Linked DNA regions of Homo sapiens: region 2 is linked to region 1. The links come from fine-mapping of genetic effects on gene expression. A gene starts in region 1. The other region holds a variant in brackets. All regions are shown on one strand. Distances are between the middles of the regions. Region 1 holds the start of CAV3 (caveolin 3). Region 2 overlaps LOC107986061 (a long non-coding RNA gene).

Region 1 (9,689 bases):
GTTGAGTTCAACCTGTTTTCAAAAAAGGCAGTGTGGTGTATGAGGTGGGGCGTGCTCTGAATCTCTAGGGCAGCGTGTGTGGCTCACATCTGAGGCTTAGGCCAGATGAAATTGAAGCCAGCTCTTTTTGACTCAAACCAAGATCCTCTGGGAGGCTAAGTAGACAGAGACAAGGAGAAATGATGACTTATCTCTCATCCTCACCCCTCAAGAATTCTGCAGAATGAGGTTGCAGACAGAACCAAGGGCTCATCTTCAGGGCACCCAGTCTCTGGAACATCCATTTGGTCTGGGGTATACATCACAGAGCTCAAAGAGACATGCAGAAACCCCAGCCCAGAGAGCCCCGCCCAAGTGTCAGGACTCTGTGAATTCATGAAGACGTTCTGAATGCCAAAGCACCTGATATTCTCAGAGACTGAGGCCCACCCTGGGCCTTGCTGAAAGTAAACAGCAAACGCTGTTCCCACCCACAAGAATACACGCCCCTTCCCCAGAGCCTGCTCCAGCATGGTCTCTGAACAGGGAGTTTTCACTGTTGGTCCTGAAGGCTGGAAAATTTTCCATCTCTTTTCTTTCACCTGGGAAGCAAAGCAGGTTCTACCTGAGTATGGCAAGGGCCAGTCTCCCCTGTCCTGGCATCTGCTCTTGGAGGGGAGTATGGCAACTTGGGGTTCACTTACTCATTCTCATTGTCTGATGGATAATCAAGTCGGGTGGAAGGAATCCCAGTTAGATATGGGACTCAACTCAGAGCTATTTTCCCCCAGGTGGGAGAAGTAGGTAAGGAGAGCGAGTCTGTACTGGCTCGAACGTGAAACCGAGGCCGTCCAGACATGGCTCGGGACAGCACCAGCCCAAGACGGCTCTGATGACCCAGGACTCTACACAGGGTCTGCAAACTGCATACAGCCCATGAGCCAAAATCGTGTTTTTACAATCTGGCTGCCACTTATTTTTGTAAATAAAGTTTTACTGAGACACAACCATAGCCCCTTCATTTACGCATTTTCTACAGCAGCTTTTGAGCTACAAGGGCAGAGGTGAGTAGTCGCGACAGAGACCACATGGCCCACGAAATCTGAAACCAGGGCAGTGCAACCCATAGGGCCCCATGCTTGGGAGATGCCACAGCTTGATTTCACCATGTTGAAATTTTTAATCATTTTTAAACAAGAGCTGAATTTTTGTTTTTCTCTGGACCCCTCAACTTATATAGCCAGTCCTGCCTGAAAGATTTACTATATGGTCCTACAGTTTGCCCTGTTCTTCTCCTTTTTTAGCTCTTGGTTCCCTTTCACTCTTCTACCTTAATGTTTCTGGACCCAGGAAGCCAGCCCCTTTCGGAAGCAGTCTATTATATCTCTGGGAAACTTTGAGGCAGTCCTTCCTGGTACCCTTACCGAGAACTATATCAGCTATCATTATCAGTGGGGCCAACGATGACCCAGGCCCTGGGTTGAGTCAAGCGAAAGTCTGCCACTTACTCACCAGTCCTTGGGACCTCCCAGAATAAATCTCATCCCTTATGCCTTCAGAGATTTGAGGAAAGTTCTTCCGTCCCTCTCTCTGAGTCTTCTCTTTAGAACCCAAAATTGTCTGTTTCTCACAAGACATGTTTCAAGCTCTTTCTTAAAGGAGCTTCCTTCCTCTATAGAGATGATCTAGTTTCCCAACACCCCTCTTCAAGCATGGAGCCCCACTAGACCTCCAAGCGTAGTCTGACCAGTGCACAGTTGAGTAGGACAGTCACCTCCATTATTCTAGAGTGTTCATCTCTATTGATGCATCCTAAGATCACTCTGTCTATTTTGGAACCCATTCCAAAAATCTCCCAGATCCCTCATGGTAGGAAAAGATGGTCCGTTATGCTCATTATATAGGTGAGTAAACCAAAGTTTGGGAGGGAGTGGCCTGCTCATGGACATATAGCAGTTCTGTCTCCAAATCCCAAGCTCTCCAGTCCACCAACTGAGATTTTTGGGCCCTCGGTTTCTACATCTGTAAAATGGAAAAGCTGGGTCTCTTCGAGCTCGAGCATACTGTGATTTGTTTTCTAAATGCAGACCCCAAAAGCCAAGTCATGAAGAAAACAGAAGCTCTCAATCCAGATCTAAAACTTGTAGGAAAAACAAAAAAAAGCTTCCTTTCCTGCTGATCATTCTAGAGTTACTAGCCTTGGAAACATTTGCATGAGTGATCAATCTTGCTTGTTAACAGTAGCCCTAGACTTGTTAGCTCACTGAGTTTTCAGTCCATGGTACCATTACTTTCTTAGTGACTCAGCTCATGTAAATCTTTCCCTTTCCCATTACTTCCCCTTTGGACCCTCCACAAATGTGTCTTCCTGCACATCCCATTTTCAAAATTCTTTTCTCTCTCTTTTCCCTGGCAAGCCAAATAACAACAACAACGACAAAAATCCTTTGAAATAAGAACGCTGTGTCCTCTATAAAACCCCAGATACAAAATGGGCTCCGGAAAGCCACTCTCTCTCCTTAATTGCTTTCTCTTGTTAGCTGCATCACCCCAGGGTTGACTTGAAAGTTTCATCTGTCAGTACGTTCTCTTCGTAACATTTTTTCTGTGAGTACACAGCCCCTCTGGTGCCCCATTAGGTTTTCCCACTGAGTGCGGGGGCACAGACTCATGCGTGGGGAATACAGGCAGGTTTTACCATCCAAACTTGACAAGGACCCCAGGCCTCAGAGAGGGGGCTCAGAGTTGCTTCACGATAGGGCCAAGAAACAACTAATGGTTCCCGGCTTCAGTGCTCTTTTCACCAGTGAGGTTTTTAGAAATACAATTGTCATAAGAAAGTGAGAGATGACCCTTTCTCTGCCTCTGGCATCTGGCCCTTTCCTCTCTGCCTCTCTGAGTCCACTCATCCTTCTGGCCCAGCTGAAGTACACTTCCTTCCTGTGAAATCCACAATGTGTGTTAGTTGCTCCACTCCCTTGGCCCTCAGCACCGATCACCAGCTAGGGGCACTGACCCTTTCAGATAACAAATGAGCCTCCTTACACACACCAAGGATGCCTAGGAAGGAAGCCAAGCACATAATGATTCTCAACAAACAGTAGTTGCTATTGCCATTAGCGCTCATTGATCCAGTGACTATGGTTGTGAAACAAGCTCCCCCAAATTCCAGTGACATAAAAAAATGATTATGATCATGAACTGTGTGGTTTAGATATTCAAACAGGACACAGAGAAGACAGTTTCTCTGTTTCATGGTGTCTGAGGCTTCAGCTGGAAGACAGGAAGGTTGGGGATGACTTGAAGACTGGCGACTGGGAACATCCAAAACTTTGTTCACCCTCATGCCTGATGCTGATGTTGGTTGACAGCTGGAGCCTCAGCTCCTCTCTATGTGGTTTTCCCACATAGGCTGGTGTGGACTTCCTCCCAGCGTGGTGACTGAGGTCCAAGAGCAAGAATCCTGAGAGGAGAGAGCCAGGAAGCCAGCCAGGGAGGGAACACAGACCCTCCCTCTTGGTGGAAGGAGTGTCAATCTCATCATCTTTGGAAAAGATGGCCTTCCATAATCATTATTACTATGTCGTTATTATTACTTCCCCTTTAGGATGATGAGTTCTTCTAGGTGGCTCTTCCATCCCTGGCGACAAGACTGCCATTAGCTGGCCCACCTTTCACCAGACATATCTGGTTCTACGGTGCACAAAGCTTAAGCTCAGGCTTAGATCCCTGCCACGTCCCTTGTGAATACAAGCAGCAATGTTCTTTTTTTTTGTTACAATCTCTTTGCAGAATATTCATGTACCTGGGACCAGGGGGACCTGGGGACCCAGGCAAGGGAATGGAAAAGCAACAAAAAAAGTTACCTCTTAATCCTAAGCGACTTAGGGACAGTTTTCTGGTTGCCCACCATTTATCCCTAGTAACACTGTGGGGGTGCCGAAAATGTGCTCAAGCTAAAAAACCTACAGTTCCATCATCGTTTGCCAAGACAGGAGTGACCAATGAGATATAAACAGAAGTAGTTGGGTTGGACTTCTAACAAAGCTTTATAACAGAGCCGACTCAGTTCGCAGATGTCGTTTCTTGTCCCTGCCCCTTCCTCTTTCTTCTTATCCAGACTCAGAGATGATGATTGGAGGAGCAGTAGACATCTTGTGCCTATGAGGTGGCTTTCGGGCTAGCAGAACAGAAGGATGGGAGTCCAGATGTCTGAAGACATCATGGAGCCACTATAATATTTCTGAACTACTTGTGTTAAGTGAGAAAAAAAGTTCCTACCTTATTCAAGTCACTATTACTTTTGCATCCTTTGTGTTACTAGCCAGGTGTAATTATTGATAAAGCCTAAATCACCTCTGGTTTTCCCCCTCCTACCTCAAACTTCACCCAGCTCCAATCCACCCTCCACCTGGCCACCAGGGAGCTTCCTCACACACAAATCTGATACCGACCCTGTCCTGCTTTGAAGCCTTCAATGGCTTTCCAGCACCCCTAGACAAAATCCACATTCTTTAGTATGACATTTGGGATGCTGCACACCCAGGCCTGAGCTGAGCTGTATCTCCTGCCTCAACCCCAGACACCCTGTGCTCCAGCCACTCCACACTTTTCAACATTCCTGTCTATACCACTCCTCAATATCCACAATCCTGTAACTTGAAGTGTTCTAGGTGCTGAGCTCCTGCTTGTCATTCGATACCTATCTGCAAAGCCACCTCCCACAGGAAGTCTTCCCCGGTGTCCTCAGAGTAAGTTACTGACTCCTATGGACTTCTAAGACCAGCTCTTTGTAAAATATCTCTGATCTGTGGCACTTACCGCACAGTATTATAATCACTTATTGTTTTAATTAGTCTCCCCACCTTGACTGGGAGCACTTCAAGGCGGACAGAGCCTTGTTGGTCTGTTTATCCCCAGCTATTAGCAAATCCTGAATGAAGGAGTGAATAGACAGGTAAATGGAAGCACAGACCCTGACCCCTGAGGATTCAGAGTTGCCATCCTTCATGCTGCTGGAGCCCAGGGGAAGGCTGAGTTAGAAGAGGGCACAGAAAAACCGAGCAGGTATCTAAGAGAGGTGCACCCCACTGATGCATGTGGAGTGTCTGGGACCCAAGAAAATCCTGGAAGCTGTCACTAGGGCAGGGTGAAGGGTAGCACGAACATGGACTTCATGTTCCCCCCACCGGGCATATCCCAGTGCAGGCTCCAGACGGCAGACGAGGGGCAGCCCCACAGCAGCTTCCTCTCCCTGTTTCATCCCCAGCCTGGCCCCACACCACAGTCCATCAACTCCTGCTCCAGGTGGAAACCTCAGAAACCCACAAAGCTCGGACCTGCTCCAGGTCACCAAGCAGCAGGGCCAGGCACTGGCAATCCAACGAGAAGCCCCACTACATCGCATTCCAGCTCCTGAAGCCATTCCCTGGGTAGGAGAGCCCTGATTGTTATTATCATCTCTCCATTTTACAGATGGGGACAGAGTGGCCTAGAGAGGTGAAGTGTGCCAAAGGTCACACAGCCAGCCAGAGGCAGAGGAGGGACTAACCCCACTTCCCTCCACGGGCAGTGCACCCCAAAGGAGCCAAAATGCTGACAGCAGTGGGGCAAATTCCAGGGGCCCCGGAGCGACCGCCGAGTTGGCCACAGCCACACGATGCATAGGAAACGCTAGGCCCTCTGCACCCTCTCCTGAGGCCCAGTGCCCTGAGGCAGCCCCCTTTAAGGAGCGATCGGCCTTCCAGAAGAGCTCCAGTCTTAATTTTAGCTTGGAGGCCTGCCACAGGAGGCTTTAGAGAGAGGCAGGCTGAAGTTATGTGGGACAGCTGTCAGCCGGCATGCTGGGTGGGGCCTATTTAGCTGGCAGGGACATAAGTCTGGGGACACTGAATTGGTCTCTCTGCCCCAAGTATTTTCAGCCCCAGCCGGCCACACAGCTCGGATCTCCTCCTGTGGATCCCCCCAGCTCTGCGATGATGGCAGAAGAGCACACAGATCTCGAGGCCCAGATCGTCAAGGATATCCACTGCAAGGAGATTGACCTGGTGAACCGAGACCCCAAGAACATTAACGAGGACATAGTCAAGGTAGGCTCTGCAGGCCTGCCTCGGCGGGCGGAGAGTGTCAGGTTTGCGAGACGTGGGCGCTTGGCAGGGGAGGGTATCTGCTGCAGACACAGTTTCCCTGAAAAGAGACTTGTTGCTCTGTTGTCTCTGTATCACCCCCCCAACCCCACCCCACCCCCAAAAAAAGGCTTCTAAATCACCGAAGGATCTTTAGCAAAATCAAGAGCAAAAAATTAGCCTCATCTCCATGACCTAAGTGCTAATCAGGGCAGGAGGAGCGAGTCACAAAGAAAATCCCTCCTTACTACTGTGACGCTCCTGCCACTCACTCCTGGCTCTCACCCTGGGAGGAACAGGAACGGGCGGCCAAGTTGGGCTCCTTTCTGTGCCAAGGGGCATTTCTGCGGTCTCTCCAGTGGGTGCAGGGTTAATCCCCAGAGGGCAGCTTCCAGCAGGGCCGGCAGCCCCTCGAGGTACACTCACTCCCCCAGAGCACTGCCCAATATCTGTCCCCAAGGCCGAGGGCCATGCCCAGCCCTCCCCTAGCTACCCCCTCACCCCAGGTCTAGTGGCCAGGACAGGGCAGACGGCACCCGGGACCCTCGAAGAGAAAGCTCGGGGTTGTCTAGCCCTCAGGGAGTCTCTCAGCGTCTGAAGTTGGGCCTCTTCCCTCGCCTCCTGGTGACACTAGCGGCCCTGCTGCCTCCAGGCCCACACCTTCAATCCAACTTCCAGCCAGTACCCAGAGGGATCTTTCTTTTTTCTTTTTGAGACAGTCTCTCTCTGTCCCCAAGGCTGGAGTGCAGTCGCACACTCACGCCTCACTGCAGCCTCAACCTCCCAGGCTCAAGTGATTCTCCCTCCTCCACCTCCTGATTAGCTGGGACCACAGGCGAGTGCCACCATGCCCAGCTAATTTTTGTATTTTTAGTAGAGACTGGGTTTCATTATGTTGACCAAGCTGGTATCAAACTCTTGGGCTCAAGTGATCCTCCTGCCTCCCAAAGTGCTGGGATTACAGGTGCAAGACTCCACAACTGGCTCAGAGGTACCTTTCTAAAGCAGAATTCCTCCAAGAAGGGTCCCCAGCCACCAGCATCTGAGTCACTGGAGGGGCTGTTAAGAGGCCAGTGTCTGAGGCCTCTCAGATCCTACTGAAAGCATTGGAATCTCAGGCCAGTGCTGTCCAATAGGGATACTGTTACCACAAGGAATTTAAAATTTTCTAGCAGCCACATTTTAAAATGCGAAAGCAAACAGGTGAAATTAATGTTCCTGATATTTCTTACTTAACCCTATATATCTAAAATAGTATTATTTCAACATGTAAGCAATATAAAACAATTATCAATGAGCTATTGTACAGTCTTCAAGTTTGAAATCCAGTGTGCTTCCTATACCCACAGTATATTTCAGTTCAGACCCCACATTTTCATCCGAAATGCTTGTTCTGCATTTAGATTTCATAAAATGTACATGTGAAAATCGATTCGCATGCCTGTACTGTTTCAAACATTCTGCAAAAATTTTTCAATAATGAAATCGGGGTTTACATTTTAATTAAAGTTAAACAAAATCTAGAATTCTTCAGTTTCACTAGCCACATTTCAAGCGCTCAAAGCTCCTGGCCACTGGATCAGACAGGCCTGTATTGCGGTCTTTCAGTGGGGCACCTCCCATGCTGGAGAAGCCTAGCCTCTCCACGTGGCTGTCCAAACCCAACACAATCTGGCCCCAACCTGCTTCTTCTGCCTGGTTGGCTCCCACCTGCCAGCCCACCCACCAGAGTACATTCCTGTGCCATTGCCAGAAGTGCCTGTCCTCTCTTCTCCAGGTGGTGAATGCCTCACTCAGCCTTCAAGGCCCAACTCAAATGCAACCTCCTCCAGAAAGCCTTCCCTGACTCCTCCAGGCAATTAGTTGCTCCCACTTCTGTCCCCCTGCTTCACTCAGGGCATTCCTCCACCACAGCTCTTCTTATACTGGATATTATATTTCTATACATCGTTAGTGATGGAGATAGAGTATACAGTATAGCACAGTGTGAAAGCTGAAATGAGGAAAATTAGGAAACAAATTTCACAAACTGTAAAGCACTATATACATGTAAATAAAATTGTACCTGTAAAATATTATTAGTTATGGTTTCCATCAGTGTCATCTAGCAGGAATAGTCCTGGACTTGACTTTAATAGACTTGATTTCAAATCCAGTCCATTTTACCTAAAAATGATAACACTGGACAAACCAACTAGGTTTTCTGAGACTCAGTTTCCCCTGTAAAGTGGGAATAATATCATTTCCCAATTTACCTCCACCAGGTAAACGAATCTCAAAGCAGCACTGTGCGTTAGAAATATAGCATGAGGATTGAATGAGATGAAGGGTTTGAAAGTGTCTATCACAGTCCCTGGCACCCAGCAAGGATGAGACAGTGTGAGTCAAAGAAGGGTCTCAAAGAGCTTGCAGTCTAGAGGGCAAGAGAGCTAAGCCAGGAGCCTGCGTCATGCCCAGGTAGCCATCTGGTACACCCAGGTGGGCTGCAGGGAGATGGGAAAGAGGATCCCACGGGAGAACATGGTTTCTAAAGGGCACCCACAATGGCTGGTAAGTACAGAGGGAGCCCTTGGATCCCTCTGAGCCAGGAGGGAGCCAGCTCCAAGCCGCAGGCCTGGATTATGACGCAGAGGGAGCGGCGGGGGCGGCGGCACAGGTGCAGCGGCTTTACGCAGCCCTCCTGGGGCTGAGAGCTGTCCTCTCCTGGAGGCCCTGAGCCCTAGCAAAAATAGCAAAGGCTAAGAAAGGATGCCGCAAATAATTTTGTCCAGAGGAGGTGGTTATTTGGTATGTTTTGGACATTCTCTGCTTTAGGGATTTGTTTGACTTTTTCTTTCTTTTATTTTTAGTGAGTGAGAAATGAAAAAAGTTAATGCAGAACAAGGATCATAAAGCAGACTCAGATATAGATCACAAACAGGTTTAGGTAGATTTCAGGTCTCTGTTACAGTCTGTTAAAGAATAAAGAAAAGAAAGAAGGAGAGAGGGGACTGTGGCTAGGAGGGATGAAGCCAGACTGTTCAGCCTCTCAACTGCCCGGGTTTTGCCATCGATGGAGGAAAAGAGAGATGGGAAGGAAAAGGGAATGAGGGAGACAGAGAGAGATGGAGAAACTGGACAGAGACTGAGAGGAAGGTGCAGGAGGCCCTGGCAGTGCCCCAGGTGGCAGGTGGCAGGGTGGCCTCACAGGTGGTAGCAGGTTTCTCATGGGCTAGGATGAGTGACACGGAAAGAATGCTGGAATAGGACCTGGCTACAGACTCAAGTTCTGGTCCAAGACCTGACAGTAACTTGCTGTGTGACTCTGAGGAAATCCTTTGCCCTCTCTGGTCCCAAGTCCCTGGTGCCACCAGTCACGGCCGTTTCACATTTAAAAAAGCCAAGGATGAAGAGTAGGAGATAGGCATACTACATCCATGGATTTGACCCCCAGTAGAGGGGAGGCACCCCTTTTTGGCCCTGCCTTTAAACCCAGGCAGCCAAGAACAGAGGAAGAGCCCTGTATACTCCAACAGACTTCAGCTGTGGTCTCCAAGGCTCGGGACTGGGCCCAGGGCAGTGTAGAAGGTCATGGAGATTGTAGCT
Region 2 (9,975 bases), 75 kb after region 1:
TCTGGATATTAGCCCTTTGTCAGATGAGTAGGTTGCAAAAATTTTCTCCCATTTCTTTTCTGCTTTACCTCTAGTAAGGAATAGTCCTCATGCCAAAAATAGAATCTGATATTTCAGTAACTTCATAGACTGCTGGTTTTTCTTTTTCTTTTGAAATTTGGGTTTACAGAAAAAAATACATCTCCTATACCCTAAAAACCTAGAGCTTTTAATATATTTGTTTGAGTAGAATTTCAGTCTCTATATAATCAGTGTAAATAAGGTCAATAAACAAAAATCTGGTTATACTACACTGAAAAAAAGAAAACTCAAAAGAATACATTTATAGGACTGATATTACCCAATTTCAAGACTTATTATAAAGCTACAGTCATCAAGACAGCATGGTATTATGAAAAAATAGACAAATAGATCAATAGAACAGAACAGAATGCCCAGAAATAGGCCCACATAAATATAGCCAACTAATCTTTGACAAAAGAGAAAAGGCAAGAGAATGGAGAAAAGATAGTTGTTCAACAAATGGTGCTGGAACAACTGGACATCCACAAGCAAAAAAAAAAAAAAAAAAAAAAGAATCTAAATGCAGACCTTATATCCTTCACAAAAATTAACTCCAAATATGTAAATGCAAAACTATAAAACCCCAGAAGATAACATAGGAGATAATCTAGTTGATCCTGGGTTTGGCAATGACTTTTTATATATGACACCAAAAGTATAATCCATGAAAGAAATAATTGATAACCTAGACTTTATTAAAATTTAATATTTCTGCTCTGCAAAAGACACTATCAAGAGAACAAAAAGGCAATCCACAGACTGAGAGAAAATATTTGCAAAAGACATAACTGATAAAGGACTGTTGTCCAGAATACACAAAGAACTCTTAAAAGTGAACAATAAAAAAACAAACAACTCAATTAAAAAATGGGCCAAAGATCTTAGCAGACACTTCACCAAAGAAGATATACAGATGGCAAATAAGCATTTGAAAAGATGCTCAACATCATATATCATCGATGCAAATTAAATGCAAATCAAAATAATGCAAATTAAAATAATGACATGTCATTACACACCTATTAGAATGGCCAAAATCCAAAACACTGAAAACACCAAATGCTGGTGAGGATGTGGAGCAAAAGAAAGTCTCATCCATTGCTGGTGGGAAAGCAAAATGGTACAACTACTTTGTAAGACAGTTTGGCAGTTTCTTACAAAACTAAACATACTCTAACCATATGATCCAGCAATCATGCTCCATAGTATTTACTTTAAGAAGTTGAAAAGATGTCCTCACAAAAACCTGCACATAGGTGTTTATAGCACCTTATTCATTACTGCAAAAACTTGAAAGCAACCAAGATATTCTTCAGTAAGTGAATAGGTAAATAAAATGTGATATATCCAGATAGTGAAATATTATTTAGCACTAAAAAGGAATAAAAAAAACATATAGGAAACGTAGATGCATATTACCACATGAATGAAGCTCCAAGCTACATTCTGTAAGATTCGAATATGACATTCTGGAAACGTCAAGACTATGGAGACAGTAAAAAGATCAGTAGTTGCCAGAGGTTAGAGGGAGGAAGGGACAAACAGGTAGATCATAGACGATTTAGGGCAGAAAAACTACCCTCAATGATACTGTAATAGTGGACACATGTTATTATTCATTTATACAAATCCATAAAATGTACAACTCCAAGAGTGATTCCTAATGCCAACTATAGTCTTTGGATATGATCATGATGTGTCAATATAGAGTCATCAGTTGTAGCAAATGCACCACTCTGGTGGGGGATGTTGAAAATGCGGGCGACTATGAATGTGTCAAGGCAAGAACATATGGGAAATTGTGTAAATTTCTCTTAATTTTGCTGTGAAACTAAAACTGATCTTTAAAAAGATAAAGTCTATTTAAAAAGAAAAGAAAAGAAAATTCAGCAAGCCAGACTAGAAGGGAACTTCCTCAATATGATAGAGGACACACAGCTAGCATCAGACTTAATAATAAAATATTGAAGTATTTTCCCCTAAGATTGGTAATAAGGCAAGAATATGCTCTGATTGATTTTATTCTACATTGTAGTAGAGGTCCTAGCCAGTGAAAGTGAGCAAGAAAAATAAATAAGAGGTATAAGTATTGGGAAAATAAGTAAAACTGCCTTATTCATAGACAACAAGATTGTATATGTATAAAACTCTGGTTCTGAGGCATGACACCAAAAGCACAAACAAGAAAAATAGATAAATTGAACTTCATCAAAATTTAAAAGTTTTGTGCTTCAAAGAGCGTCATCAAGAAAGTAAAAAGGCAACCCACAGACTATATTTGCAAGTCATATATCTGATAAGAAACTTTCAGAATACTTCTTAAAAAATAAAATTTTTACAACTCAATAATAAGTAGGCAAATAACCTAGTTTAAAAATGAGCAAAACATATGAGTAGACATTTCTACAAAAAATATACAAATGACCAAAAAGTACATGAGAGGATTCTCAATGTCATTACCTACCAAGGAAATGTAATTCAAAAGCACAGTGAAAGCCTCTTCACACCCACCAGTAGAACTGGTGGTTCTACTGGTAAAAAAGTAGTAAAAAAAAGACAGATAATATAGTAAAAAAAGTAAAAAAAGACAGATAATATAGTAAAAAAAGACAGATAATAACAAGTGTTGGCAAGAATGTGGAGAAATTTGGAACCTCATACACTGCTAATGAGAATGCAAAACAGTATGGCTGCTTTGAAAAATAGTCTGGCAGTTCCTCAAAGGATAAAAATGAGGCAAGCAAAAACATGTCCACAGAAAAACTTGCACACGCATGTTCATTCAACAGTATTCATAATACCCAAAATGTGGAAACAACCCAAATCCTCATCAACTGATGTATACATAAATAAAATCTGTTCCATCTATACAACGGAATGTTATTCTGCCATAAAAATGAATGATACATGCTACAACATGTAGGAACCTTGAAAACATTATGCCCCAAAAGACTACATGTTGTATCATTGCTCTTATATGAAATGTTCAGAAGAGAGAAATCCATAGAGACAAAGAGTAGATTGGTGATTGTCTAGGGCTGTGAGGTGGAGATGAGAGGAGGATGAGACCTAACTGCTCCTCATCACACAGGGTTTCTTGTGGGGGTGATGAGAATGTTCTAAAACTGGATTGTGGAGATAGTCACACAGCTCTGGGAATATAATAAGAACACACTTTAAATGGGTGAATTAAATGGTATGTCAATTATGTCTCAATCAAGCTGTTTTAGAAATCATATAGAGTCTATTAAACAATTACTAGAATAAGTGAATTTAGCAAGGTTTCAGGATGTAACATCAATGTACAAAAATAAATTACATTTCAATATTCTAGTAAGAATTGGAAAATTATATTACAAAACAAATACCACTGACAATAGCATCAAAACACTAGCCAAAATAAAATACCCAGGAATAAATCTAATGAAAGGTATGTGAGATCTATAAACTGAAAATTATAAAATATTGCTTTGCAAAATTAAAATATTCCTAAGTGGAGAGATATAGCACGTCCGTAAATTGGAAACTCAATATTGTTTAAGATTTCCATCCTCCCTAAATTAATGTATAGATTTAACATAATCCATATCACATATAAGCAATCTCTTTTGAAGAAATAGATAAACTAGTTCTAAAATGTATGTGGACATGCAAGTCATCTAAAATAGCCAAAACAATTTTGAAAATGAAGAACAAATTTGGAAGCCTTTTGACTACCTGATTTTAAGACTCATTATAAAACTTCAATAATCAAGATAGGGTGATGTTGGTGTAAGGATAGGTAAATAAATCAATAGAAAAGACTAGCAAGTCCGGAAATAGGCACTATACATTACATCCTTGAAATGTGTATTTTACCACAATTAAAAATGCAAAAAAATGCTAATGTAGAAACTGAAATACTCAGAAAATAAAAAGAAGAAGAGCAATCATCCATAATCTCTCACTGTCTAGAGTTTACCAGGAGCACTTTTTAGTACACAGTATTTATCTTTTCCTGTCTCAGTGGTATAAGTGTATATTTGAGCTTTTTTTAAACAATTGGGGTCAAATTATATGTATTTGACATTTTTGTTATTGTGGTGTTAGCTTCTGAATCTAAGAAATGGAGCCAAAAAAACTTTCCTTAGTGGGAAAAAAGAATTAACTACTGATACATGCAACACTGTAGGTGAAGCTAAAAATACGTATATGTCTATATGTCAAGTGAATGAAGCCAGACCCTAAAGAGCACATGCTGGATGATTCTATTTATGTGAAATCGGAGAACAAGCCCAACTACTATACAGTGTTTGAAATCAGGAAGTAGTTGCTAAGGAAAGGAAGAGCTCACGCCTGTAATCCCAGCACTTTGGGAGGCCCGAGGTGGGTGGATCATTTGAGGTCAGGAGTTCGAGACCAGCCTGGCCAACATAGTGAAACCCCATCTCTACGAAGAAAACAAAAAATACAAAAAAAAAAAAAAAAAAAGACCCAGGTGTGGTGGTGGGTGCCTATAATCCCAGCTACTCAGGAGGCTAAGGCACAAGAATCACTTGAACCCAGGAAGTGGAGGTTGCAGTGAGCCAAGATCATGCCACTGCACTCCAGCCTGGGTGACAGAGTGAGACCCTGTCAAAACAAAAAGGGATGAGGATTTATTGGAAGGAGCATTGGGAATTGCCAATGGTGATGGAGATGTTCTACATTTTGTTCTGGGCACTGGTTACACAGGTATATGTTGTCACAACTCATTAAAGTTAACAGTTAAGATCTGTACAATTTACTGTTTCTCAATTATACCTCAACCTAAGAAAGTTTTCTAAGTAAGTGGACCAAAAACTAATCTATGTTAAAAGAAGTCAGAATAGCGGGCTACCACTGGGGCGGAGGGTATTGACTGGCAC[G/A]GGATTGAGGAGGAAACCTGCTGCCATGCTGTGTTATTCTACATTTTGATGTAGATTGTGTTACATAGCTGTATAAATTTGCAAAATTTCATTGAGCTGTACATTTCAGTTGTATATGATTTGCTGTATGTAAGTTATATTTCCATTTAAAAACAGTGAATGGGCCTGGCCTCTGCCTCCAGTCACAGCTCCTTCTCAGTGAAGACACAAGAACTGGCCGAGAAGACCAGCAAAGATGGGCAGGTGGCTTCTCCCTGTTGGTGTTCAGAGAAAGAAGGGAAAAGGAATAGCTGCCACTGCATTGGTACAAGAGCTCCAACACTCCAGATTTTATTTCTTAATTTCCACATCGAGAAACTGAGATGACAATTTTATTTTTCTACACACAACAGCAGATAAGCTATATTCCAAAGAATCATTTGTAAATTGGCTGGTTGAATGCAGAACCCAGTGTCCACAGGAAGTAATGTCCTAAATGTCCATCAGATGCCCAGGCTAGCCCACAAAAGCTAGAAGGAAGAAGGTCATCAAAATACTATAGGATTTTGTTCAAATATGTTTGCAAAGTAATGCTCTTACCACAGTAGAAACTAAATCCATTGGAAACATAATAATGTTGAAAAAGACTTCATTTTCTACTTATGAATATTGACACTTGATGAAGAACTGTGTTGTGTGTAATTAAAGCAGGATGAGTAGGAAGTTTTTTTGGCAATATTTCTAAGAGGAAAGTCTGGGAACTTTCAGGAATTACCTGATTTCACTTTGATTTCAAAGTGAAATGGCCACGTCCCTTGTCTTGATAAGTGTCTGTACCCTGATGATTATAGTATGTGCTGACCATGATTACAATTGCTTCTTGATTCACAGTGAAGGAAAATGGGAAGACTTTCCTGGGGAAGTCAGGCAGAAAGAAGTTGGAAAGTAAAAGAAAGAATGAAAGGGGTCAGCCGTAATAATAATGCCTGGCCTTTCCATTCTTTTCTGTGTGATGCTATGTTACCAGCATCCTCACTTCCTGAGCTCAGGGTCCTCCCTCTGGGCCTCTAGCTACAAACAGAAAACAAAGCCACCTTAAACTACTAGCTAGAATTGGTTACCACGTAGTCATTTGATAGATTCTCCAACTCTGTTTTTTCAGTTACTGAATGTTTGATAAATCAACTCTTATTTTGTTCCCCTGCATGGTTTTAGTCATGGCAGAGATATTATCCAGAAGCTCTTTAGCTGTGGAAATGAAGAAACTTGCTTCAACCTCATTTCTTTACAAGGACAGTGATGTAGCCCAGGATGAGGCATAATGACCACCTGTCAGGAGCGAGAGGCTGTCACACTTCAGGAAATACAAGTGACATCATTCAAGTAGTGGGGACATTTGTTTCCTGAAGGCTGCATTCATTTCTTAGCCCGAGACAGGTGGGCTTCAGGGAGACTGAGTATCCTTGTGTCATGCAGCAGGAATCTCAGAGGTTCTAAAAGATCACCTGGACAGCTCCATTTCTTGCTAGTCTGTCTTACCATATGACAAGGGCTGACTCACAGACAAGGTCGCAAGGAGAATAAAAAAGATCTAGTGTGACAAATGTCAGATGGTCTGTGGGGAGGCAGGTGACCTGTGACCCCACCAAACGTCTCTGAATGGTGCTTCTAGAAGCTTGGGTGAATGAGCTTGATGCATTCTCAGGCTAAGCCAGCTTCTCCAGGGGCCTGAGCTACTCCCACAGTGCATGCTAGGTTGCAGCAGCTGTTGTGTTGATTCTTCTAACGTCAAGACCCAGCTTTGTCTTGTATTAGTTCTATGACATTGTGCAAGTGGCTATAATCACCAAGTCTCCATTTTCTCATTTTTAAGATGATAATAACACAGCTCGAGTTTTTGGTGTTAGGGATTAAATCAGGTAGCTGTATAAAAATAGTACATAGAGGAGATAAATAACTTCTCACAGGTGCTGAATTCAGGGAATCTCTCTGAAGTGTGGGAGAGATCACCTTTGACATTGTGAAAACCGAGATGCACATCTGAGAGATTTGGGCACGACTCTGTTGCAAATCTAAACTGTCAACATCACAGACTCATACTATATGAGCTCTAGAAAGAACCTTTGAGAAAAACTTGCCCAACTCACTTGTTTATGGATGGATTCTCATCCATGAGATGAAGGAATTTACTTGTTTGTCAGTCATTGCAACTGAGTTGCTTGCTCATCAGTTGTTTAAAAATGTATTCTCAGCCAGACATGGTGGCTCACACCTGTAGTCCCAGTACTTTGGGAGGCCGAGGTGGACTCATTTGAGGTCAGGAGTTCAAGACCAGCCTGGCCAACATAGTGAAACCTGTCTCTACCAAAAAATACAAAAATTAGCCAGGAATGGTGGCTTGCACCTCTAGTCCCAGCCCTCAGGAGGCTGAGACATGAGATCGCTTGAACCCAGGAGGTGGAGACTGCTGTGAACTGAGATCACGCCATTGCACTCCAAGCTGAGCAACAGAGTAAGACCCTGTTTCAAAACAAAAAACAAAAATAAAACAAAACAAAAAAAAAAACAACATATACTCAATAAATATTCAATGAATTTGTTAACTCATCTGAGGACACAGAACTAAAAAGAAAAAGCTCAAACTAGAATTCCATTTTCTTCTGACCTACAGAGAATAGGTTTACTGTAGTGGGTAAGAGTAATCCAGATCTTGGTTCAAATCTTGACTCTGCCCCGAAGTTGTGCAATCTCAGGCAAGTTATTTAACTTCTTATTAGTAAAATGAGGATAATTGTATCTATCTCTCAAAGTGTTATTGCAAGAATTAAACAAGATCATGGAGATCGAGCATGGGGCTCTTTCTGTTACAAAAGATCACATATTAACAATGACCCAGACAAAAAACAAGTGGGTCAAAAATCTGGATATTCAGTTGGCATCACATGAAGCCTCTAGATATTTGGTAATAGCAAAGTGAACTGAATTTCTAAGTTTGTCATCATGTCCTGGCTGATATCTACACTGCCTCTTCCAGGGCAGTCATACCTGACATGTCACCCAGGCCTTCGTGGGCTTTAGCTGCCCTCCCCAGGGCAGTCAGCACCATGCTGGCAAGAGTGCAGGTCCGTGCTCAGGAGATGGGGCACCAGAAACCCTCCCCTATCTGGACAAGTCACTGAAGCCCCTGAGCCTCCATTCCCTCATCTGTGAAAAGCAGGTAACAGTGCCTTCCATACAGGGATATTGTGAGGGATGGATAGCATCATTATTCTGGAAAGTGTACAGCACTTTAAAAGCAGGAGTGAGTTTTAATGTGCCAACCTAAATCAAGCTTTGGTCTAACTACAACACTGACTGAAATTTCTTGGGAGTTTCTGCAAATTAAAATTCTAACTTGGGGCTGATACAAAAAAAGAAAAATTCATTTAAAAAAATATAATGACTGGTGATTTTTTTCCCTCCAATTCATTGTGGGAGCCATTGCTAATCATGCTGACATTTTTCCAAAGAAAGATGGCTAGAGTTAATGCAGACACGTTGAGATGAGAGTCGCCTGGCCTACCCAATGGTGCTGCCAGAGGTAATTATAACACACCTGATATTTCCAGACCCCTTTCATTTTTCAGGGAGCCAAAGCACTTTGGAAAGTCAATCATTTAGAAAGGCATAGGGAAGACAATCCAATGAGCAATTGGAAGGATAGAAAATACCAAGTTCCTAAGGAACAGTAGCAGATCTGAAAAATGAACCTTTCTCATTTGCTTGAAAAGATGGATGGTTTGTGCCTGCATTTTCCTTCTCAGCGGTGGCTCCAACACCATGTCATTACACAAAATAATGACTGCACTTGTCTCAGGCTCCATTCGTAGTACTCACATGGTGACTGAATTTACTGAACGCAAAACAACTCTCTCCTTCTGATCTGAGAACAACAGGACTGCAGAGGGAGATTGCACAGTGTCTTCTCACACCTTGGCCTCAGTTTTGGGCAGTGTTGTTTTAATGCAGCCACTTTGACTCTTGGACAAAGTGATAGCCACACTTATTTTGAGAGCCTCAAAAAGAAATGATTAACCTTTGGGCATTTCTGAAATTTCCTGGTGATGTGTGCAATAACCCCCTTCACCCCTAGCACCGAGGCTCAAGAATGAAATTAAGGTGTAATGGGGGTACAGTTAGGTCTTGGGGTTTGGGTAAGGGACGGATTGTTGGTGTGAGGCATGGTGGTAGATTTGGGTATGGGGTGAGGGATGAGATGGGGTCTGATATGGACTGAAGGTGAGTATTTGGGTAAGGGATGCAGTTAGTGTCAAGGCTGGGATGAGGCTCAAGATTTGGTAGGGACAGATCAGGTCTGTGGTGAAGAATGGGCAAGGTACAAGAAGAGTGAGCCTTCATCTTTGGGTAGGGGTAAGGGAAGGGTTTATGTATGTGCCAGGCTGAGGCTCCGGATTTGGGCAAGCAATGGTCAGGCTCCACGGAGGCTCAAAGATGGATGGTTTGAGACTTAGGGACGGATGACAGGGAAGACCTCAGTGATGGGGTGATGTCTGTTGAATGCATTACTTGCTTTACATTTTTAAAAGCTGAAAGCTTAAGAGCTTATTTCTTAAGGCCGAGAAACATGTTCTCAGCTGCAGCAAAGCATTCTGCTCTGTCAGATAGCCCAGAGTTGGTCCAAAACAAAGGTGGGAAGTCGTCTGTGTTTGTGGCCCCTCCCTGCCTTTCTGTGGGGCTTCCCCACTTTCTGATAGAGCCACCTGGCAGGTGCCCAGCAGTTCTCAACAGCCTGTAGCATGGTCCTGGAGTCTCCAGCAAGCCATCCAGGTGTCATCAGCACTGGGCCTTGCAACCCGGAGCCCTGCAACCCTGTGGTAGAGCTGCACAGGGATGGGGAGGATCGCGGGATTTAGAGTCAAGAGGACCTGTGTTCTGGGCCTGGGTCTTAGACAAATCCCTGATCCTGAGCCTGATTCTTCAGCTATAAACAGCATTTTTCATACTTATCAGATGGGTTTGGAGATTGAGCAAATATGAAGGTATAAAG

The links. PIP is the estimated chance that this variant, and not a neighbour inherited with it, causes the effect.
Region 2: its variant is the best candidate, but not a certain one, in a credible set for the expression of CAV3 in nucleus accumbens (GTEx, PIP 0.57).

Annotation. Positions count from the first base shown.
Region 1 is chr3:8,727,923-8,737,611 of GRCh38, forward strand. CAV3 (caveolin 3) reads left to right here and starts at 5,880. Exons shown (of 2, transcript NM_033337.3): 1 at 5,880-6,068. The coding sequence starts at 5,955.
Region 2 is chr3:8,803,081-8,813,055 of GRCh38, forward strand. It overlaps LOC107986061 (a long non-coding RNA gene), which reads right to left. Exons shown (of 2, transcript XR_001740592.2): 2 at 5,251-9,975. Among named protein-coding and RNA genes, the nearest start is that of OXTR, 38 kb to the left of the region's middle. The variant G/A (reference allele first, on the strand shown) is at 4,950.